3 separate regions of the Homo sapiens genome follow, and all the other regions are linked to region 1. Evidence: fine-mapped expression QTL. A gene starts in region 1. Each other region holds a variant in brackets. All regions are shown on one strand. Distances are between the middles of the regions. Region 1 holds the start of SLC44A3 (solute carrier family 44 member 3). Region 2 overlaps SLC44A3 (solute carrier family 44 member 3). Region 3 overlaps SLC44A3-AS1 (SLC44A3 antisense RNA 1).

Region 1 (8,183 bases):
CATAGGGGCCTTAAAATCTGTCCACCACACATACTGTTATTCATTACTTCTAATTTTATTGCACTGTGAAATTTATTGAGCCTCCCTTTAAGATCTAATACACAGTTTATGTTTTTACTTTAATGTTTCACATGTACCTGAAAAGAGAAAGGACATGTATTCACTGTTTGATGGAAACGTATATGAGTTATAAATATCTAATGGCTCAAGTTTATTAATTAAATTGTACAGACCTTGTATATTTGCTTTCTGTGTGTATGTGTGTTGGGAGAGGAGAGGAAGTATCTACTGTCTACTTGATCTATTGGATACTGAGAGGAGCCAGTTAAAAATCTCCAACTATAATTCTGATTTATCTGTTTCTGCCTAAATTTCTGTTAGCTGCTGCTTAATAAATATTAAAGCTGTATTGTTGGGCACATTTATGACCTCCCTTATGAACTTTCTATCTTAAGTTTTATTTTGTCAGGTTTTAAAATTACTACATGAGCTTTCTTTGGTTCACATTTGCACTATATCCTTTTCAAGCCTTTTAACCTTTTAGTGTCTGTTTTACACAAGTTTCTTGTAGAAAACATATTGCTGAATCCCTTGCTTTCATTCAATTTGAAAGACTGTTTTTCTTAATTGGTTAGTTTAAGCCACTTACATTTATTGTAATTGCTGCTCTATTTAGGAGGCAGCATAGAATAGCTCTAAGTATGGTTCTAAGTATGGGTTCTAGATCCAGACCACCTGGGTTCAGGCCTTGGTTCTGCCACTTTCTAGCAAGTTAGTTAATCTCAGTTTCATCATCTATAAAATGAGGATGATGAAAGTAATAGTACCTTCCTCATAAGGTTATTATGAGGATCAAATAAGAAACACCCAGAAAAGTATCTGGAACATATTAGGTACACTGAAAGTAAAAATTATTATTAGTAATTTTATTTCTGCTATCAAATTTCATATATTCTAATTATTGCACTTTCTTTTTATTCCTTTTTCCTCTGCTCTCTTGCCTTTCATTTGATAAAATTTTCTTCCACTGCTTTAAAAGTTACATGTTTTATTCTTTTTTAACGGTAGTTACCCTTAAGACCTACATTCACAAATATTTATCCCTATTGATTTATTAAAGTTAACAATTTTTTTCGTCTTCCTCCCATATGATAGTAATTTAACCCAGTACTACTCTAAGTACTCTAAGTAGTACTGGGTTACTTATCTCATCCATTCCAGAATGAGATTTGAGCCCACATGTAAATCAACACACAGCTTCCTTCATTGAGAAAGTCTTGCTACGAAAGTGTCAGCTGAATCAAAGAGTTTGCTTATGACATAGCTGATATGCATTCTGGTACAAGCTCCTTATCTCTTAGAGAACAATTAAGTTTTGTGAACCACCCTTTGAATGGCACTATTTTAGATCACTGTCCTATCATTTTGGCCTCTCATTCCTGAGTCCCACACCCCTCACAATATTGATATTGTCTATAATTTTAGGTCTGAATCATTATAAATACACTGTTCTTTGTTTTTAGACTTTTGAAAAGAGTTTTTGTAAGTCAGGTTTAATGAAATACAGTTTACATACAATAAAATTCACCTTTTCTAGTGTACAGTTCTACAAATTTTGACAAACAGATACCACTGGGTCATCAGTACCATTCTCAAGATAATGGAATATTTCCATCACTTCAGAAAGTTTCTCCAGATTCCCTTCACCCCCAGCACCTGACAACCATTGATCTATTTTCTGCCTTTTCCAGAATGTCACATAAATGGAATCATAGAGTAGCTTATTATATCTGACTTTTTTTCACTTAACATGCATTTGAGATCATCCATGTTTTTGCATATGTAAGAAGTCTGTTCCTTCTTAATGCTTAGTTGTATTTCATCGTATAGATGCATCACAGTTATGTATAGCCACCCACCAGTTCCTGGACACTTGGGTGGTTCCTGGTCTTTTTTCTAACACAACAATAAATTCAGCCTAAATATTTGGCCACTCTCATGCTATATCTATTGTATCATCTCCTGAATTTGTTTCTCTTCTTGCTTGATTATGTCCTCCAAGAATGTCATTCAAATGAATCTTTCATAAGAATATTTTTATTATTAATACATTCTCACATTCTAATGACAATATGGCTTAATAGAAAATAAGTTCAAAGTTATGCTTTTAAATACTTACATATAGAAACATTTTGCTTGAGATAAACCTTTTCAATCTGAAGGTTTTTTTCTACCTTGAAATTTATCTCCATTATATCTTCAAATATTTCCCCTTCTCTGTTTTTATATTTCTTCCTTTCTGTTCTAGTTTTACCCTAGATATAAGCTAGAAAATTTACAAATAAGCTAACTTGTTTTTTAAAACATTTTCTACTGCCTCTGGAGGTTTGCTGAAAGTGCTCTTCCAATTACTAATTCATCGTCAGCTGCATCTTTTAGACTATTGCACATTACTAATACGTAGCATCAATATTCATTCTAATTATTATTTTTATGCTTAATATGTTTTAGTTTCATATTTTTTCCTGATTCATATTGCTAATATCATAACTCATTTTAAATAAATTTATCATGCTTATTTAAAAATCTTGGTCCATCTGCTCTACTGATCAGTTTCAGATGGCATATGTTATTCAGTTGTGGTCTTTTAACAGTAGTTGCACTCCTCCAGTGTCTAATTCTTTGTCCTATGAATTCATGTTCCCCTGGGGTTTCACCTACTCTGTCTGATAAACATGCATCCAGGAAGGCCCAGTGAGTTTGCAGTGGGAGGGTGGTGTGAGCCCAGAAGGAAATCGCTGGCACCAGAGAACCACTGTCTATCATTCCCAGTTTCTCCCACTTACCCAGATCTTTCCTCCAGTCAGGTTTCTACCCTTAGGGAGAAGCAGCACCTAAAGGAAGCAATTAACCTAGCAACCCTAAGGGTGGCAGGGGGAAGGGTAGAGGCTTGATTGAGAGGAGGTGGGGGGAGGTCGGCCTGCAGTTTTTTTTGTTTTTCGTTTTTTAAATTCCTCACCCCAACAGTGCTTTTGCGCTGGTCTGACACTACCTGGAAAACTATGCCACCAGTCGCTTCAGTGGACACTACCATTTCAATTGCGAAGTCAGGCAATGATTGTCCTAAGGCAAGGTGGGAGAGAAGTCAGAGTAAACCACCTCGAGAGCGCCGGTCTCCCGGAGTGTCTGGGTTCGACTCCTGCCTCCACAACTTACTGGGTCTCCTCGAACAAGTTGCATCACCAATGGCCGTGCCTCAGTTTCCCTCCTCCGTAGATTAGGAATAACAATAGCAGTGAGAACAGAATCCAGCACACAGTAAATGCTGCTTACCTGTTTGCTATGTGGAATACGCCACTACACTGTTGCTCGGCCCTCAGGAAGGGTCTGCTGAGACTTTCTACTTCCTGCTCAGGGCAGAGGCCGACCACCCGCCCAAGGTCGTGGCGGCGCCGGCTCAGCTTTAGTCGTCAAAGTGCACATCCTGGGAGCCGCTGCCTCGAGGTGGTTGAGGCGAGAGGGCAGGGAAGCGTCTGAGCCTCTTCCTCCCACCAGAGCAGGACCCCAGCTGACAGCGGGTGAGCTGGGCAGAAACCCATGCCGGGAAGAGGCGGACCCAGTGGACCGCAGCGCCCGCAGTCGCCGGGCCAGGCGCAGAGGCGAACGGGAGGCGGCGCTGCACCGTGCCCGCCCCTCCCCGGCCCGGCCCCGGCTCCAGCCCCAGCCCCAGCCCCAGCCCCGGCCCCGGCCCCGGCTCGCGGGCGCTGCGTCTCCGCGTACAGGAGGCGGCGGCGGCTCCCAGTCACCGGCCCCCGCCGGCGAGCGCACGATGCACTGCCTGGGCGCCGAGTACCTGGTAAGCGCTCGCAGCCTCGGCCCTCGGGGGAGGAGCCCCGGGGAAGGGTCGAGTCCCCCGCCTTCACGCACCTTCCCTGCCGGACGCTTCCGCCTTTCCCGCGCCTCGGGGATCCCGCCCCCGCTTAGTACCTTGGGGCCACCTGGCGGGGAGGAACCTGGACCCTGCTCCAGTGCTGGGGCGGAGGCGGGGGAGACGCGGGCCGCGGGGCGCAAACTTGGGGTCGTCCTCAGGTGCACCTCCAGGTAAGCACTTGGCGGCAGGGGGCTTAACATCCGCTCCGCGCAGAGCAGGTGTTTCAAAGGCTGTGTGAAAGAGCTTCAGGTGGCCACGTAAAAAAATAATATTAATTTTAAAAATTTAGAAAAAGATTGGTTACTTTGGCCCCTCTTCGAGTAGATTTGGGTTCGGTTTCCAGGTTGAGTCCACCTGTTTATCTTCTTTTTCTCAACTCTCCCTTTTTCTGGAAGGTTTCTGCAGAAGGAGCCCCTAGGCAAAGGGAGTGGCGACCCCAGATTTATAGGAAATGCACAGATACGGCATGGTTATTCCTGTTCTTTCTCTTTTGGACTGGTTTGGTAAGTGTGGGTGCTTGGTAGGAAAGAGGCCAGAGTGTGTGTGCACGTCTGGAAATAACTCTGTCCCAAATGTAAATCGTAGTTGGTGCTGCAGTGAGAGACTTCTGCCGTTAACCCACAATAAACATCAGTTTGTACTCGGGAGAATTCTTGTCCTAGACTCGCTAGAAAGGCTGTCTTTTTGCTACAGGCCATGTTCTAAGGGGTGACTCCATTAGGAAATGGGAATTAACAGTTTGCAATGTGATTGCTATTTAGTAAGGCCAATGTGTCTCCTTTTACTCTCCGAACTTACTGAACAGAAGTTCTTTTAGCACCTGCCACACCCCCAAATCAAATATTCCTCAAGCTTTTGGTGCACCTTTAACAAAGGAAAAGCCAGGGTAAGCCTAGAAATAAACTGCATTTCCTTTAGCTGAACATCACACACACACGCGCGCGAGAGATATGTTGTGTTTAGCAGCCAACACTGTTAACCATAGCTAACAAGGAATGATTTTTCCCACTCTAATTTCGAGGTATGTATGATTGCTGGTAAACTCCATCAGGCTATGCGGTTATAATCCTGAGAGAGTCTGTTGGAAGCCGAATCTTGCTGCTTTTATACTTATTTTAGAATTGTAGGTAACAGCAGAAAACGTCTCACCCGACATTTTCAAAGGCCACTTTCACGAAATCATCCATGCCAGGATAAGGCATGCTATTTGCTGCATGGTAAATGATTAATTTATAGAGCAGGGTAATAACTACCAGATAGTAATTACCTTTGTTGAAAAGAATTCCATCTGAATAGGCCCTAAAATATCATGTTTGTTCTTTCCAAGTAAGAAAGGCATTTGTTCACTTATGACCCGTTTCACATAGACAGGCTTGGTTACAGGCACAGTGGAAGGTTAGGTCTGAAACACATAATCAGATGTTTTTTGTTGCTTACGTTGGAACTCTCCCCTAGGAGCTGGGAGAGACAGTGCACCTACAATACCTTCTGCTTAACTTCGCAGATGGTTGGTGTTTTTATCTGAGACTGCTGTTGTATAAATGCAGGGAGCAGCTGGCCTGCCTTGTGCCTGGCAGCTTTGACCTCAAGCTGTTATTGTGATTTAATGATCTGCCGTAGCCCCTCCACAGCTTCAACCTAGGACCTCACTACCAAACTCTCAGCCCAACAGCTGAGAATCCTGGGGAAAATCTTTGTAGATGACCTATCACAGCCTGAAGAATTGTGAACCAGCTGAGAGGTGGCACGGAGCTGGAAACTGCTTTAAAATTACATTTCATTTGCAAAATAAGTCTGAAGTTTTAATATATCCAAGTTCTCACTATGGCATTCTGTTTTAAGAGTCAGAGTCCTTTCTTAGCTCACTGGCTTTTAGTGTCTTTTGCAACATTTTTTATTTGCAGGTATTTAAAACAGAGCAAGGAGTGTTTTGTTTTTGGACTTTTTTTTCTGCCTCTGTTGTTCAGCTTTCAGGTCTTGTGACAGATGTCCTGACTGGTGATGGTGTGCCCTGAGTTAGGGCTGGACAAAGGCTTGGGGGAAGGAGCTGAAATTATAAGCAGAGATGGTTCTTGCAAATGCAGCACCAGCCTGTGTTTATATTTGCATTAAACATAAGGAACAAAGTCTCAAAGTCTGGACTATCTCTGCCTCTACTTACCCCTCCAGTATCCTCTCCTGCCCTGCCTTTTCCTATCATCCCTCAAGATTCCATTTTCCTGATTTTGCAGGCACGGTTGACAGTGACTACCTTGGTGGCCAATGTACTAGACCAATGTACACACCTCCTATATCACCTGTCATATAGAATCGCAATTGCATGTTTGAAATTAGGACAATGAAGGTTTATAGTAGTAGTTTCTTGGAAGGCCGAGGCAGGAAGATCCCTTGAAGCCAGGAGTTCAAGACCAGCCTGGGCAATAAAGCAAGACCCTGTGTCTACAAAACATAAAAAATAATAATCATAAAGTCATAGTTTTATTAGGAGGGACTCAGGAATCCTCAGAAACCACTCCCACCTCTCCCACCCAGAAAAACTTTCCATTCTTCACCACAGGCTTTCCAAAGGAAAGAATGATGGTAAATGGAAAACATCACTTTGTTATTAGATTACTGGTGAGCTGGGCAGAAGCACATGACCCCTTTCCTCCCTCTAAATCCAAACACAGTCCAGACCTTACTACACTCCAACTCGAAAGGACGAGACAAGCATGTCAAGGCACAGTCAGCTTGCCATGCCAGCCACATTGGCAAACAGAGTCACACCTACTCCACAGCCTTTAGGTAAAGGGTGAGTGACACACACTACTAGCAAAGGTGACCCATTCATTCTAGAATCTGACCAGTTAGACTTAGGAGGATCTTGGAGAGTGGGAAAGGACAGGGAGCCTCCTTCCCCAGGAGGTCTGCAGCCCGTAAGTCCTGCTTGCCTTCTAGGCTGGGTTCCTGGAGGCAAGGAGTAGGTTCTGGTCATTCCTGTGTCTCCCAGTAAGAAAGTCTCAAGAACACACTGGGCACTTGAAGAATGTTTGTTATTTTGATTTCTAAATTAGTAATAAATGCAGAATGTCTAGAAGGTATTTGAATTTAGGACAATGTACCTTTGCAGCATAAGGTATCAATACTATATATTAATGAATAGTGTATTATATCTGTTCTCCTGGAATGAACTTGTCAATATAGAGTATTAAATGGTATCCTATATATTGCATACAGTACTGGGAAACTTACTAAGTTTGCATTATGGGAAGATACATATTCAATCTTGGCAGAGAGCCTGTCAGTATGTATTAATGGCACAGTTGTTTGAACTGAAATTTCAAATATTCCACATTCACTATGAGAGTGGATAAAAATGATGATAGATTGCAAGATGTTCTTGTCCAACAGAATTCCTGTGGTCCTTTATTTTGTATGTCTTAAGCAGTTACTCCAAAACACTATTTGCAGATTGGTGAACAGTGTTTCAGTACATATCAACTGTGTTGCTTCTGCAGAATCCCTTAAAAGTAAGAAAAGAAAAACAAAAAAAGTAGTAGAAAAAAAAAAAACCTTGGGGAAAGAATTAGCATAGCCCTGAAGCAGTTAAATTAAGCAAGAACATCAAGGGAAGAAAAATTGAATTGTCCCAGTAAAGTTAGACCAAAAAGAAAAATGATAGACTCTTAAGGAAAAGGTTAAAAAGCACAGAGGTAAGAAAATGGAGAGAAATCTGTTTCAGTGGATTAGATTCTCTCTCTACCTAAATGTATAAGTAGCAGAGGAGCAGGATGCTGATAGATGGGAGTTGCTGACACTGTTACTGACGGAGCAAAGCGCTATGATGCTGGAGAGCTTCACGTTCCACCAGGCTCCGTTTTATATCAGCATCTGCAGGGGTGTGGGGCACTGTGCGCTCAGCCCTTTGGCCAGGCTCTCATATGCCCCCGTTTTTGCCAGGTGTTTATCATGGGCTACTCGGTGGTGGCTGGAGCCGCGGGAAGACTCCTCTTTGGCTATGACAGCTTTGGCAACATGTGTGGCAAGAAGAACTCCCCCGTGGAAGGGGCCCCTCTTTCAGGGCAGGACATGACCCTAAAAAAGTAAGTATCTAAATAAGTCCCCAGTCTGTAAGGAACTGTACCTCAAAACTTTGTATAAATTCATCATTTGGAGCCTGGAAACTTTTCCCATTCAAAACTCTGTCAGCCTATTTTATAAAAAGGAAGGCTGTGTATATAGTACAGGTAAGAGTACAAGTTTTAGAATCATA
Region 2 (8,183 bases), 26 kb after region 1:
CTGCCACCTCCCAGAGACTACTGTGTTATCCTTGCTGTTGCACTGTTCTCAGCCCCAAGGGGCTACAAGGTGGGCATGGTGGGTGGGCGGAGGCAGGCTTACGGCAGTTCCCATTCCCTGTTTGTGAGGTGCGGCTCCCCTTTGCCAGTGTATGCTCAGCTTCCGCTGCCCTCTAGCACACAGAGCCCTTTGTTTCCAAACCCGCTGGCCACTGGGTTATTTTGGTGTTCAGAGAACTTGCTGCCTCCTCAGTGAACTCTCTAGCTGAAAACAGGCTGACTTAGAATATTGAGGGAGCAGGTATTAGTTACTGGTGGTGGGTGGTTGGCAACCAAATGTCATTCAGGACCCTCTCCAGGGGCCGTTAGGAAGGCTCAAATCACAAGGCCCTGGGGCGGACCCCACACTGGCTTCAGGTCCCCCAGAGTCGTCGTTGCTGGTGTGTTGCTTACTGACTGTTCTGTGGAGCAGCTGCAGCCAGGGGTTTCCACAAGCCCATTGAATCTTGCAGCAAATGCAGATTCTCACACCAACAAAATTCTCTCATAGGAAATCCTTCTATTCTCATATTTGGTAGTTTTCACATTTTCTCCTTTCCACGGTGAGGTTTTGGGTTTGTGATCTTCACATAAAATGTGCCAGGGAGTAAGGGTACAATAAAGTAAAGCACCTGGTTGCTCTCGCCTCAGGCAGGGACCAGACCAGACACTCAACAGAGTCTGCAGAGGAGGCTGGAGATGAAAGGGCTTCCCCATTCCCCAGGCTGGGCATAGGGGAAGAGGAGCAGGGCTGGGGGCTGGGGAGGGTCCAGTTCCTCCGTCTACCCTCCACAGGGCTCCCTTTTTGTTTGTACACTGCACCATTTATGCCACCCAGATTTCAGGGCCGGGGCAAGGTTAGGGAGAGGGGAGGCCATGTGAGCAGGGAGGCTGTTTTCACCTGGGTCCATGAGTTCTGCACAGGGGCTACTCTATAAGGCAGAATTGAGTCCCAGCTCACCTCCCGTTCATTTGTTGTGAGTTCTTACCAATTCCCGGTTGCTAGATGAGCTAGTTCACTCATCCTCAGAAAAGCCCAGATGGAAGTTCCTCCTCAGCCTTTACAACTGAAGGGTCTCCTCTGGGTGTCTTGCGGGGCCTCTCCTGACACCTCTCCCTGCATGGTCAGGAGGCTGTGCTCCCAGATCCTGGAGCAGCTTCTGCAGTTTATCCACTGTCACTGTCTTTCCTCCACTTGACTGTTGACGGCAGAAACGCTCCAGCAAAGCTGGAAGAGAAAGAGCATCTCAGGCCAAGGGCACAGCATGCATGAGGTCACATGGGCAGGGGTGTGACTTGCAGGAAGTTCCCTTGATGGAAGCCTGAGATGCAGGTGCAGGGAGGGTCATGTCACAAAGGTCCTGATCTGCAATGATGATAGGTTTGATCTTTCTCCAGAGGCACTGGGGTGCCGTAGATGGATTTTGAGCCGAGAAACACCATCTTTGTGTTTGCGCTTTACAAAGGTCCCCTTAGCTGTGGAGTGGAGGAGGGACTGAGGTGGGGCGGGGTGGGGGGGGTGGTCAGGGAGGTTAAATGCAGAAAGCTAATGAGGTTATTGGGGTCTAGAAGAAAGAGGCTGAGACTTGAGCTGTGGCATCAGCGGTGGAAACAGAGAGGAAAGGAAGGCATGAGCGGTATTGAGGAAACTGAACCAGAGGTGATTGAGACTGTACTGGGCACTTTGCCAGTCCTTGACCATAAGAATGGCCCTGCTCTCTAGGAGCCTAATCTAATGGGAAATTCAGACGAGAAAACATTTATAGAATATGTTAAATAGTACAATAGGGTAAGTGTGGAATAAAATGGGAGCACACAAGAGGGGAACCTAACTTACTCTTGGAAAGTCTAGAAAAATTAGGGCCACTGGAGGTAAAGAATACAGGGGGAAGAGGAGGTTCTAGTATGAAGATAATGAATTTGATTCAGGATAAATTGAGTCTGACATACTGTAGGACATCCACGGCCTTGTCAATAACTGATGTGCTTATTCTTCCAGCACCTAGAGGAAAGTGAGGCTGGAGGTTTTTATTTGGAGGTTGTCAGCATCTAGGAAGGATGCTGAAAGCACAGAGGAATAGGAGATACCCCCAGAAGATCTCAAGAAGCAGCAATTAAAGAAGTAGGAGAGCTAAAAGAAAGATCATGGAAGCCAAGGGAGGAAAATGTTTCGAGAAAAGAGGAGTGGACAAGGGATCTAATGCTATGCTGAAGTCAAGCAAGACCTGGAATGTTTCCATGGCATTTAACATTCAGGAGGTCACATGAAGTGACTTCAGAGAGAGCTGTTTCAAAAGAGTGTTGGGATCTGGATGTTTGTGGGTGGTTGAAGAATGAGTTGGGGTATGGAAATACAGATGATGGGTGTAGACAAGCCAAGAAGCTCGGCCATGAAAACAGTAAGAGACGGCAGTGGCTGGATGGGGATGGAGGGGTGCAGAATGGTTTGTTTCATTAATATGAGATTTGTAAATGTTTATATGCAGGGAGGGAAAGCTAGAAGAAGGCACAGAAGGTGGCTTTGAGTCTTTTTGCCTCATACTCATATTCCCTTGACTTTTGCAATATCTTGGGTTCTGTGGGATGTGGAGGGGAGGATATAAGACAGTTCCTTGACATTAGAAGACCTTATTCTCATTTTATCTTTTTCACTGACCAGACTACAAGGCCCTTTATGGAGGGACTGTGTCTTCTTCGCTATTATGTCTATTAAGATCTATTCCAGGGACCAGCACTTACTAGATGCTCAGTTAGTGTTTGCGAATGCATCTGTAAAATTATAACAAAGTAGTGAGTAACTATCTTAAAAGAGCTGTTTGCTGAGATGTCATAATAATAGTAGGGCTTGCTTTAAGCTCTACCCAGTTCTCCATTATTTGGAAGTAATTTACTCAAATCCCTTTCTCACCAGGCAGTGCTGCTCGTCTTGATTTTTGTTCTCAGAAAGAGAATAAAATTGACAGTTGAGCTTTTCCAAATCACAAATAAAGCCATCAGCAGTGCTCCCTTCCTGCTGTTCCAGCCACTGTGGACATTTGCCATCCTCATTTTCTTCTGGGTCCTCTGGGTGGCTGTGCTGCTGAGCCTGGGAACTGCAGGTAAGGGACAGTGGGTGTGGGTTCCATCACCTTGGAGTCATACACAGAAGACCATTTTGGAACCACTGGCCTGTTTCTGTAGGCACCTAACCCCTCATTGAGCCAGAGGTGTCTGATGACAGCAGCGTTGGTGCTTGGGGCTCTGTCATGGGGAAAAGTGGGAAGTTCTTTTACCTCTTCTATATTGGTTTTAAAGAAGCTGGGTTTGTGTTTCATGAGAGAATAAATTCAGTAAGGACTGAAAGCTCTAGGAAAAACTACAATATGAACAAAGGCCAACAGCAAGAATATTACCAGATGTCTCCAGGTATGAGTTTTATCCAAGGTAATTTGCCAACCCCTATCAAATCAGTAGGTGACAAAGAAGAACCCAGGAAAGACTCTATTAAAAATATATTGTGCAGCCGGGTGCTATGGCTCATGCCTGTAATCCCAGCACTTTGGTAGGCCAAGGCAGGTAGACCACGAGGTCAGGAGTTTGAGACCAGCCTGACCAACATGGTGAAACCCCGTCTGTACTAAAAATACAAAAATTAGCTGGGCGTGGTGGCGTGCACCTGTAATCCCAGCTGCTGGGGAGGCTGAGGCAGGATAATTGCTTGAACCTGGGAGGTGGAGGTTGCAGTGAGCCGAGATTGCGCCACTGCACTCCAGCCTGGGTGACAGAGCAAGACTCTGTCTCAAAAAAAAAAAAAAAAAGTGTTATGCCCAGCAGAGCCAGTGTACATTTAAAGCAAACTCATAGTTCACATGCCTTGGTCCTGAAAAGACAAGATTCTCTCCTCCATCCTTTTTTCATATCCACACAGTGGTTCTTCACCAGGGCTATTTCTCAGAATCAGCTTTGGTGCTTTATTAAAATACAGTTATCTGGGTGCCAGCCTCAGAGATTGATTCACGTGGTTTGCGGTGGGACCTAGTATATGTTCTTGTAAAGCTCCGTAACAGGGCAAGCATATTCTAAAGCAGCACTATTCAGAGTGCAGTCTGAAGCCAGATAAGGAGCTTAGCTAGAATGGACGTCATTCCATTGCTTCCTTCATTGAGAAAGTTTTGCTATGGAAGAAACTGTCAGCTGAGAAACGATGTGCTTAGTGATGCAGTTGATCTACATTCTGGCACAAGCTTTTTATCTTACTAACAATGTGAGGTTAGACAGCTTTTCTGTGGACCACACTTTGAGTGGCACTGTCCAGATCTTTTCTAACTCCTCTGTTTGATTTTCTTAAGGCCCAAATTCAGTACACATGGATGCAAGTACAAAAGAGTAAGTGGCTTCCTGATACTGTCACCAGACTGATAAGGACCACAGCTGATGTCAAATCAGCAAGGCTGATGCAGTTCCTTAATGTTTTCTCAAGTTTATCTTGTCCCTTACTGGCTCCAGTCATATAAGTAAGAACAGCTGCCATGTAATAGATTCTTAGTAAACTCAGTCCCCTTCCTTCTCCTCTGGAGCTAACTGAGGCCACAGTGCCAAGATCGTCAGCAGGCTGCCTGGAAGGCATGGCCCTTGGAGGCCTATGTTTCCACCTTCAGAGGTGCATA[G/A]GGGCAGTCTTCTACTAGGGGCTCCCTGGAAGCTCGCTGAAGGCCTGCAGTGAACTTCTGATAATTACCCAGGGAGGAACATTGGTCAAAAGGGTATAATCCATCAGAATGAGGTTTGTCTGGAAGTGAAAGAAAACTCAAAACAACAGTGGCTAAAGTAGGATGTAAGGTAATTTCTCTGTCACACAGATGAAGTCCACATGGAGAGGATCCATGCCAGCCTAGTTCTCTAGCGCTCAAGGACTCAGGCACCCGCTTTCTTCTTCTGCAGCCTCTGCCCTTGCTTCCACCTCATAGTGAAAGGCTGCTCAGGCTCCCACTGCCATGTCTTATTCCGACCTTGAGGAGGGTGGCAGGGAGGAAAGCGAGCATGCCCCTCCCAGAAGTCACAGGTGGCGCTTCCACCCACACCTCATCAGCCAGGTCCCAGTTACATAGCAGTGCTTATCTGCAAGGGACACCAGGAAATGTAGTTTCATTTTGGGCAGGCACGCACCAATCAGAGGTTCTATAACCAAGAAAAGAGGGGAGAATAGATATCGTGAGACAGGTGAAGTCTCAGCATTGGATGGCCTTCCTCTAGCGAGCTTGAAGTGGGCTCAGCCCTGGTCAGAAGGGAGGGCAGTGGCCCCGGTGCATGAAGGGAAACAAGCCTTTGTTGAAAATGTCCTAGATTCTAATCTCTGTACTGGATGCTTTCTTATGTTCTGTCCCCCAGGCATCACAGTCCCCGTGTGATGTGGGTATTGTTATGTTCAAGTTACAGGCAGGAAAATTGAGATTCTGAGGAAGTCATGTGCCGGAGGTCATACAGCTGGGAGGCATGACGTGCTGTGACTCTAGAGCTTTGGAATGGAGCCTGTGCTCTTTCCACTACCTTACACCTCCCTTGCATCTGGGATCCAAAGCTAGGAAATAAAAATAGGCCTCTTTAGGCCGGGTGCAGTGGCTCACGCCTGTAATCCCAGCACTTTGGGAGGCCAAGGCGGGCGGATCATGAGGTCATGAGATCGAGACCATCCTGGCTAACACGGTGAAACCCCGTCTCTACTAAAAATACAGAAAACTTAGCCGGGCGTGGTGGCGGGCGCCTATAGTCCCAGCTACTCGGGAGGCTGAGGCAGGAGAATAGCATGAACCCGGGAGGCGGAGGGTGCAGTGAGCTGAGACCACACCACTGCACTCCAGCATGGGCCACAGAGTGAGACTCTGTCTCAAAAAAAAAAAAAAATAGGCCTCTTCAAGTTTGCTCAGAATGAAGCTGTATCAGGGACCACAGCAGTTGGCTGGTGGATGTGGGCTGTGCCCATAATGTGTCTGGGGCTGGAGGTTGACAGCTAGAGCCAGCTGGGGATGAGGTGTGATGGAGGTGGTGGCAGTGGCCCTGGGCAGCAGCACTGTAGGGCTTGAACCCTAGCCTCTAGAGAATCATCAGAGAAACAGTGAGGTCTTAGGAAATATGGCTCAGGACCAGTGAAGGACCCTCCTCTTCCCACCTCCTTAGGTGCAGCTGGCCCAGCCAGGGGGCCCCTTGTTGGCTGTGAATCTGGATAAGGGGAACTGTGTCTGTGGCTAGACCCCATGATGTTTTGGAGCAGGGATGGTTTTAATTTAATTCAGAAGTATTTGGTGGGCACTGTGGGGATGAGGCGCTGAGCACGGCACTAGGGAGAGGTAGGGAACAGGATTGAGGTCGACTCTCTGCCCTCAGTACTTATAGTCAAGCAGGATGGTCCAACAATGAAACGTGTGATCGCAGTGAAGATTGATGGATGTGATGATCAGAGAAATCTGGGGAGCTATGGGAACACCAGAACAAGGCCGTAACCCATGCTGTGAGTCAGGGAGGGCTTCTTAGAGGGCAGGCTGGAAATCGCCAGGTCAGAAAATACAGAAAGAGGCAAAGGGGGATGCAGCAGAAGTCAAGGCAGCACAAGGAGAGGACCTGGCCACAGAGGTCAAGGGAAGAGCCCAGGCCAGTGAAGTCAGAAAGGAGCAAGCCCCAAGGCTGACTTGGGCATGAACTGCCAGCCTGTGCCCCTTAACTGCCAGCCTGTGCCCCTGACTAGGTCTAGGTTGGGCCCAGGGCTTAGTAGCCTCCACTGCAAGAGAGACCTGGAGGTTATTCTTCAGGGCTGAAGGTAGCGTGTCATTCTGCAGCCACCTCTCAGGATCACACAGTGAAGTGTGACGATTCACTGTTAGTGCAAGCAGCAAACAGCGAGAACAGTAGAGGGGCCAGAAAGGAAACTGGGTGCCCCGGACCTATGGGAGGCATCTATGAGCAGGTCGATTTTAGGCTTCTCAGGAGAGAAGGTGCTACGCAGAGCCACCACCCCCCTTCCCCACCCCGCTGGGGTCAGGCATCATAGAAACCAAATCACCCGTCCCCTCCTTCCACCTGCCTGTGGCCGACCCAGGTGCACAGGGTCCCCTTTGTTCTCAGAGGCCTTTTCACCAGTGCCAGAGAGCCTGGCTCTGCGGCTGGGCAGATCAGCAGCTGAATCACTTTTTGATCTTCAGAAGATGCCCCAGCTAACACTTGAGAGGGACTCTGAGCCGCTTTCACCTCTTATGAAGAGGCGCCAGGTGATCGGGTGGCGAGCCCGCTGCACAGTGCCCGATTGTCTCATTCCACGTCCCACAGGCAGCTTCAGCGGGGACAGACACACTCTTCAGTTAGCGCCCAGTTTTGTGTGTGGGCGTCCTCAGTACATAAATAGTTGTTTGTTTGTTTTTGTGTTTTGTTTTTTGTTGGTTTTTGTTTGTTTGTTTTTCTTGAGACAGGGCCTCAATCTGTTGCTCAGACTCAAGTGTAGCATCAACCTCCCGGGCTCAAGCGATCCTCCCATCTCAGCCTCCCCAGTAGCTGGGGCTGCACATGCCACTATGCCTAGCTAATTTTTGTATTTTTTTGTAGAGACAGGATTTTGCCGTGTTGCCCAGGTTGGTCTAGAAATCCTGGGCTCAAGCAATCCACCTGCTTTGGCCTCCCAAGGTTTTGGGATTATAGGCGTGAGCCACCCAAATAGTTGTGTCAGATGGTTGAATGAATACTATTTTTTACTGCATTAAAAAAAATAGGAGTGAACTTGGGTTGATCATTTTTGCCCAGATGGGCTATTTTTCTAATGACTGTTAATCATTCTTTTGACTAGTTGACAAATTCTGACTTGTTTGGGGATTTTTTTTCAGCAGGTCATATCAAGCCCCCATCTTGCACCACCCAACAATGACATTTAGTAGTCCATTGGGATTTGTCTGGTACCAGCAATAAGACAGTAATTACTAAAATCCAATAGGAAAAAGTGAAAACTGTGGTAACCTTGGTAATCTGGTAGGTTGGAAAGAGCTCAGATGACCTGGTCACCTCCAGTGTTCATTAAGGTGGTCTGGAAGCTCCAGAGTCTGTACAATAGAAGAGAACCATATTGGATTTTGGCAGGGAGTGGACTTCCCGCGAGGTCTGTGCTGCAGTTAGAAGATTTAATCACAGGAC
Region 3 (8,183 bases), 53 kb before region 1:
GGTGGGAGTGTAAACTAGTTCAACCATTGTGGAAGACAGTGTGGCGATTCCTCAAGGATCTAGAACTAGAAATACCATTTGACACAGCGATCTCATTACTGGGTATATACCCAAAGGATTATAAATCATGCTACTCTAAAGACACATGCACACGTATGTTTATTGTGGCAGTATTCACAATAGCAAAAACTTTGGAACCAACCCAAATGTCCATCAATGATGGACTGGGTTAAGAAAATGTGGCATATATACACCATGGAATACTATGCAGCCATAAAAAAGGATGAGTTCATGTCCTTTGCAGGGACATGGATGAAGGTGGAAACCATCATTCTGAGCAAACTATCACAAGGACAGAAAACCAAACACCGTGTGTTCTCACTCATAGGTGGGAATTGAACAATGAGAACACTTGGACACAGGGTGGGGAACATCACACACAGGGGCCTGTCATGGGGTGGGGAGTAGGGGGAGGGATAGCATTAGGAGAAATACCTAATGTAAATGACGAGTTAATGGGTGCAGCAAACCAACATGGCACATGTATACCTATGTAACAAGCCTGCGCATTGTGTACATGTACCCTAGAACTTAAAGTATAATTTAAAAAAAGAAAAAAAAGTAAGTCAGATTACATAACCCTCTAATCAAAAGCTCAACAGCTTCCCATTTCACTATACAATTTGCTCCCATCTCCTAAAACGTCTGTCCTCACTTCCTACTATCCTTCCCCTCACTGACTCCCTTAGGTCCCACTAGAAGTGTTCCTAATACACACTGGGTCTCCTTCAAGTCCTTACTCAAATGTCACCTTGTGCATGAGGACCTCCCTAGTCACACTGTCACCCTGTCCTGCTTTATCTTCCTCCATAGCACTCCTCACCACTCAACATCATCTTAATTATTTACCTGGTTTATTTCTTGCCACTCCATACCACCACCTCCCTCACACACAGACAGTCCCACAGAACACATAGTCAATTGTTAGCTACATGAGGACAGGGATCTCTGCCGGTTTTACTCACTGTTGCATTCTTACTGTCTTAAACAGTACCTTGTTGGCACATTGAAGTTCATTTATAAACATTTGTTGAATACATGAATGGGAATAAATACTTTAGTTGAAGTAATATCATCTAGGGAGCCATGGGAGAATTTGAATCCAGGTCTTTTGCTCTAGCTTTTCTACCAAGTAATATCCATTAAAATATTTTCAGCTATAATAATAGAATACCCAAATAAAATAATGAAGATAAAGTACTATCTTACAAAACAAGATATTCTGAGGTAGGTGTTTTCATGGTTGATTACTTCAGTAGCCCAGTGATGGTATCAAGGCCCTAGGTGGGTTTTTTGTTTTTGTTTTCTTACCTTTTCTCATTGCCATCCTTACTTATTGTAGCATGTTGTATTTCTCAAAAAATGCCACACCTACATATTTATCTCATCGCACATAATTTTCACACAATGTGACTGGCAACTGACACTCCTCCCATTAAGGGAAGGGTCTGTGTTCTCTCTTCTCAAATCTAGGCAGGGGATTGTGACTGTCCCAGTCAATGGAGTGGGGCAGAAGTGATGCTATGTGACTCTTGAGGGTAGATCACAGAAAGGATACAGCTTCCACCTGGCTCTCTGTTTTCAGATGCTTGCCTCTGGAACTCAACCACCATGTTGTGAGGAAATCCAGGACACATGGAGAAGCCAACATAGAGAAAAGCTAAGGCCTCCCTCCAACGGGGAGCATCAGCTTGTCTGCCATGGAGTTAGCTATCTTGGAAGTGAGTCCTTCAGCCCCAGTCAAGCCTTCAGATAGTTACAGCTCCAGCCAACATGTGATTGTAACTTCATGAGAAATCTCCAAGCCAGAACTGCTCTCAAATTCCTGACTCACAGAAATCATGGGAGATTATTATTATTGTTGTTTTAAGCCACTACATTTTGGAGTAATTTGTCAGAGAGCATTGGATAAATAACATACTTTGCATATTGTCCTTGGGTTTATCCCTTCATAGTTAAAGCATGGCTTCTTTAGCTCCTGATAGCACATCATCTTTTCAGGTAAATACAACAATATTTTGGATACAGAATTCAATTAATCTGCATAGTTGACATCAAGAAACTAGTAACTTCTGAATCCAAATCTTGATCCAGGATTGCATCACTAAGAGCTACAGGACTGGCTAGATGTTTATACTCTTTTTAATCAAAAGCAGGAAGCTACTCTAAAATACTTGAGACAATTCACTTATCTTTACCACTAGTAAGTTCACGAATGAATTTCTGTTTGGAGCATCCACTATGCTAAGAAGCCACGGATTTCATCAACGGAAACCTATTTCTAACATTAAGTATGCCAGTTAGCAGAGCCTCTACCATTGATCATAGATAAAGGTCATGGGAGCTCTTGTAGTAGCTGCTTCTGGAGTACAGTTTTCCTAATTCGAATGCTGGCTCTCCACCCTAGGGTGCAAATTCCCAATTTGGGCAAATGACTGTACCTAAGGTATAATGTAACCCATAATACACACATGAGATCATGATGCTTGTGATGAAGTATATTCAGTTACAGACAGTTTTATACCCAACCTGGCTTTCTTACATTTAGTTCATTCTCACCTCCCCTTTCAAGCACTCTGTCAATCTCAGTATTAATTTTCTCTCACTTCTGAGGAGTCCCATCCACTCAAACACAGGAATGGGTTTCCTTTCTGATATTCCTGCCAGTATACGTTCCAGAGACCTTGTTTTGGCTCCTGTGTCAGCTCAGTGCTTGCCTATTTCCCAAGGAAGACAGTAATCCTTGTAGACAGTTCAGTTCAATCCTATATTAAAGAAGGTTCAAACCTATATTAAAGAAGGACATATGCTATATTTCTTTAACTGCCTCATAATTTGCAATTAGAGTCAGTAACTCTCATAATGGCTGAGGCTGCTTGGAGCCTGCTGGATTAAGACCAGGATCATATTATTTTTTAATGGCTGCCTTTTGGGTTTTACAAGAAAGACACTGAAAAGATAACGAATACATTACATTCCCATCAAATATCCATGTTCTCCTCAGTCTCCATCTGGGGATAGATAGGAAATGCCCTATTCTCTCAGTGGCAGACATCAGCCAAGGTTTATCAAGCCATATGGATACATGGGCATTTACTAAGGAAGGTGGAGATGCCAATAAAGCAGGGGCTATGAAGGTTAACCCCAGGAGAGAGCCTGGATTCCAGGCCACTGCTGCCAACACTGTGATCCTAAACATGCTCCTTAACCTTTCTTGGCCCCTACATTTCCTTTTCTATAAAACAAAAGGTCATGAGATCCCTTCTAGCTGGAGAGGCTATTTCTGGCTACCTAGAGTTGTCACTTCTGGGCAAACCTGGTATTGCTGCCCTCTTTGTTGTTTCCATTTTTTATTTCCCTCCTCCCTCCTTTTTTTCCACAGAGTACCTACTATGATCTCAGAACAGTCCCTGCCCTCAAGCA[C/G]TTCTCCACCTAGTAGAGGACATAGCAATGATAATTATTATAATCATTATTATTTTAATGAGAATAAACACTAAAATGCTAACTGCCAATATTTACTGGGCTCCCACTATAAGCCAGGTATTATGCTAAGTGCTTTTCATGCAACAGCTCATTTAATTTAATTCTTGCAATACCCCTAAGAGGGATGAACTGTTATTCTACCAGTTTGTGTTTCAGGGAAGTCAAGTGATGCACCTCAAAGCCCATAGCTCTTGCCTGATAGAGCCTTTTGAACAAATAAAAAATCACAGTGCCACACGACAAGTGCTATCATACTGGCATGCACAAAAAGCAGTGAGCAGCTACCAAGAAGGAGAAAAAAAGATCCCTCCCTACATGAATCTGGAAAGACTCTTTGAAGAGGTATCATTGAAGAATAAGAGTAACTTTACCTGATGCAGAAGAATCTCATTGCAAGATTAGATTAACCCGTAACTTAGAAAGTGATGAAGAAATAATAAGTATCACTGTTTTCTAATAATATTACAGTAAAGGAGATGACTTGGGTTTTCATCTGGCTATGTGTTAATGTGGATGATGCACGTTTTTTCACAACATGCACGCATACAAAGATACCCACTTCATGGTTTCAATTATTGCTTCATTTCCTCCTTTGTGCTAAGTGATGCTGCCTATTTGTTGAAAGGGTACAAGAGTTCTCTTGTAGTCTTCTGCCTGCCCTTCCCCAATTTTCCAGTCTATGGGTTTGTTAATCATGTGGTGATTTTCCAGGACAAGAACTTGAAAGTACTCTACTTAAGATACGTTATAGAATAGATCAGGGAAAACCCCTTCACTTTCTAGGAACATTAACAGCTGCGTGAAGGCCTCAGAGAACTGTTCCCTCATTTAATTTCTGGCTTTGACTTATACCTAGCCACATATTTCAGAGTTTAAAAGTGTGGAAATGTGATGTTTTTCTGCTGAATATTCATGTCTTCTTTAGATAATAGGAACTCAGTTTTTCCTGGGGAACCACTTTTCCCCCAGTCTCAGTCCAAGGGCTTGAGAGTGGTTACCCCCGTCCTAGGCCTGGCCAATCAAGGTAATAGTCATGATCCATTCTGGGCTGCAAAGCATCAGCCTTGGAACTTTGCTTGGTCTTCTTTGCAGCAAATCTAGTGAGATATGAGCTTGGTACTACAGGTGCCCATCATTGCCACAGTTGAGTAGAGTCTACCGAAAATGAGGCTAACACAAGCAGCCTCCTGTGTGGACAGAGAGAAAGCAATGAAAGGCATTAACAAGCCTGAGCAGAAACACACTGTATTAGCCTCGTTCACTGCCAGAGGGGCCCCTGAAGGGGACACAGTGACACAGTATCTACTGATACTGCCCTTATTCAAGAGGTCAGTGCTGTCCTTCACCCCTACCTCATTCCCTACACCCTGGCTAGAATCTCATAACTCCTCCAACAACTTAAAATCACTCTCTCACCTTTGTGTTAGATTTCTGTTTCCAACTCTGCCCCTGTCCCCTGCCAAGACCCACCAGCCTCATGGCAGAGACATCTCTTCATGTCCCAGCAAGTACATCTGTGTGGTCAGTCAGGAACCCTCTCAGGGCCAGTTGCAGCCCTTCCATCACCAGGTGACCCTATCTTATGACCAGAGAGCCTTAGACTTTCCACCTTCCCTTGAGGCCCCACGGTCTTCATGCCAAAGAATAAGGTGCCAGGCTTCTCCCTGGACATCCATGGCCTCAATACTAGTGCTGTCTGAGACTACTGGCTCCTCACACCAACCCCCAATCTGCAGAAAAGCAGGTTGGGATGTCTGAATGAGTCTACATGAAGGATATTCCTTCAAATGTGCATCAGCGTGCATGAGGCTGTTTGTTCTGTAAGATAGCCCAGCCATATCCCAGAGCTGATTAAACAACAATTATGCCACAAATATTATACCCAACATTATGATCTTCTAGGATAATACCCTGATTGTCTCTGAACCTCACTGAATGTCATGGTTGCTGGTGACCCACTGTGATGTTTCTGGGCCACATTCTATGTAGCTAAATTGTTTGGGATATTAACATACCTGGAAGGACCTTTCCCCAGTCCATTAAAAATCCTCTAGTCTTTTTAGGCCACTTAAGGAAGGGTCATAGCTAGCATGGTATGGTCTACAAACTTCAAGTCTACATTCCTGACATGACACCACCCTTCCTGGTAGGAACCAGCCACAAGAAGAAAGGCCACTCAGGTTTCCTAGCAATGCCTTATTTTGGACACATTCCAAGACAGCCACAGTCAAACCAAAGTTTCGGGCAGGTCTCAACTAAGACTGGTTTGTATTTCCAAAGTCACTTATAAGCCAAGTCCTGGGACCCAGAATGTATTTTCCCATGGAAACAGTGACATAGACTATAACAAAGTCATCATGCCAAGCCACAAGTGCCTACAGCTATCATGGTGCCAAGAGCACTATTTCAATAACTCCCAATCACTTTATGTAACATTGCTTCCATAGGAAAGCTCCAATTGAGTTTCAATCTCCAATGCAGGATTCTAGGAACACATTTCCAAGCCCCCACATTCATCTTGGCAGCATGAGAGAATTACCTCTTTTGATCAAACGTTCATTCATTCCCACAAATACTTATTGAAACTCTATTTTTCATGAGCCACTGCTCTAGGTGCTGGGGATACAACAGTGAACAAAAGTCACCCACAAAGTTCTGAAGTGGAAACACAAAGTGATCTGATACCATATTGGCCAGCATAATGAAGGGAGGGTCATCTTACTGTTTCTTCCACAATGGCCAGTGAGTTCCACAGGTGAATTTCCATTTTCACCCTAGAATACAGAAATGCAGACTCTTGGTTTCCTAGCTTAACAATGATAAATCTAGTCTTCACTTTGCATTCTATTTTTCAAATTTAGCTGTTGACACTCAAATTGATTAGAAGAAAATCATCAAGATAAGACACATTCTCTCTTCTTCCATGTGGCAAAAAAGGACCCTGGGGACACATTGAGTCTTAACTGAGCTTGACAGGCTTCCTTGGAAATTTTGAAGGGTTTGGGGAGAAGGGGAGGAGGGTAATGCCCCCATGCCAATGGAACCACCAGACCAGTGGATTTCCAGTCAAACCAGATGGCAAGAAAGGAGCTGCATTCTTCTGCTTCCCAGCTGCTCTTGGAGACTCTTCCAGGTAAGTTAATCTGGAATCTGTTTACCTCTCTAACATTTGCTTACTTCCGTAGCACACTGAGAATTCTGCTGCCAAATTGACTGTAGATTGGAGTTTGCACACTTCACTCTTTACTACCACTCATGTATTCACCCAGAGCACTTAAAGACTTCCCAAATTTAAAGGGATGTTTTCTAATTTTCAAGTACTTATTGTCCCTTATAAAGTGATCTTGTAAGGTTTTTTTCCCCCTTCTTGGTCTATGTTTAATGGTTTTTTGTGATTGAAGCAATGGGGAACAACTCTTCCTTACAGCGAAGAAAACAAACTCCAAGAGTAGTAAATCTTCATGAGACTTATTCCTTCTCCTTTTCCTTCTTAATAGGTTTATTTATCTGGATTAAAACTCACATTAAGCTTTTTTTGGAGGGTATTTGCAAAAGGCCTACACTAATAACAAGTGACTTTCCAATGGCATTATTAGATTATGAGCTTCCTTGGAACAGGGAGTATCTTTAGTTCTGCTGAAGAGTGCAGGATGAAAGTTAGACAAAAAATAATAATAATAATAACACATTTAACAGTTATGCAGATATTGCTCAAAAACTGGCTTTTACTAGCAGGGTGGCACATTTCTCTATTGACCTGATATCAGAAAAAGCAAAGCAGTCTTTTAAAGATTCAGACAAAATGTTTCTGGAATACATCTGTTGAAGAACATGGGAGAGGATAATTATATTAGTTGTATTAGGAAATAATAAATTCGACCTGCAAATATATAGAGTATTTAAAAATTCTTTCTTGATAACTTTTATTCCCATGGAGAGTAATTTTCCCAAATCCACTGAAATGAGTTCACATAACTCAATGTTTGTAAATAGCATCCCTCTGATCTCCTACAGAGCAAGTGGAACTGTATTCCAACCCCAGGGCCAGAAACTTGAGACCATGTGCCAGTCCATGGCACCAGAGTCCGGTCTGTCCCCATCTCTATGGCCACTGGTGCAAACATCAAGAGGAGAAGTGGAGGTGGATGGGCCTCCTCTTCTTTTTTTACCCTCCCATGGGGATGGGATGTAAAAGTGGGACCAGAAGAAGACAGAAATAAACAAGTGTTCTCCTGTTCCCTTTAGGAGTCTGAACATGGAAAATAGAGGCCCAGAACCTGCCAGAAGACAGCAGTTTCTGGCAGACATCCAGGAAAGCCCTCTTGTTGTGTCTTCAAAGGCAAAGTGTCACCTTTTCTGGTCTGCAGGGCTTATAGTCAATTTGACTCCATGCTTTGCCACTTTCTAGCTGTGCGACTTTGGAAAAGCAACTGAGCCTCACTCTTTTCCTTTATAAAATTCAGAATAATATAAATTTTACCACTTAAGGCCAAGGATTGAATGAATTAACATTTGTACAGCATAATAGAGGCACCATATATGTGGCACATAGTAAGCATGCCAGAAAGAGTAACTAGTATTGGGTTTTCCTTACATAAAATTACAAAGCCTATACTTTATTCCCCAGGTTGGAGAAGACG

Evidence for each region.
Region 2: its variant is fine-mapped to the expression of SLC44A3 in whole blood (TOPMed, PIP above 0.99).
Region 3: its variant is fine-mapped to the expression of SLC44A3 in tibial nerve (GTEx, PIP 0.97).

The regions. Positions count from the first base shown.
Region 1 is chr1:94,816,623-94,824,805 of GRCh38, forward strand. SLC44A3 (solute carrier family 44 member 3) reads left to right here and starts at 3,735. Exons shown (of 15, transcript NM_001114106.3): 1 at 3,735-3,856; 2 at 4,327-4,434; 3 at 7,871-8,013. The coding sequence starts at 3,830. SLC44A3-AS1 (SLC44A3 antisense RNA 1) reads right to left here and starts at 3,610. Exons shown (of 6, transcript NR_160780.1): 1 at 3,334-3,610. RefSeq lists a silencer at 3,739-3,928.
Region 2 is chr1:94,842,329-94,850,511 of GRCh38, forward strand. SLC44A3 (solute carrier family 44 member 3) reads left to right here. Exons shown (of 15, transcript NM_001114106.3): 9 at 2,950-3,136. Among named protein-coding and RNA genes, the nearest start is that of SLC44A3, 26 kb to the left of the region's middle. The variant G/A (reference allele first, on the strand shown) is at 4,685.
Region 3 is chr1:94,763,997-94,772,179 of GRCh38, forward strand. The region is part of intron 1 of SLC44A3-AS1 (SLC44A3 antisense RNA 1); the gene reads right to left. Among named protein-coding and RNA genes, the nearest start is that of MIR378G, 22 kb to the left of the region's middle. The variant C/G (reference allele first, on the strand shown) is at 3,484.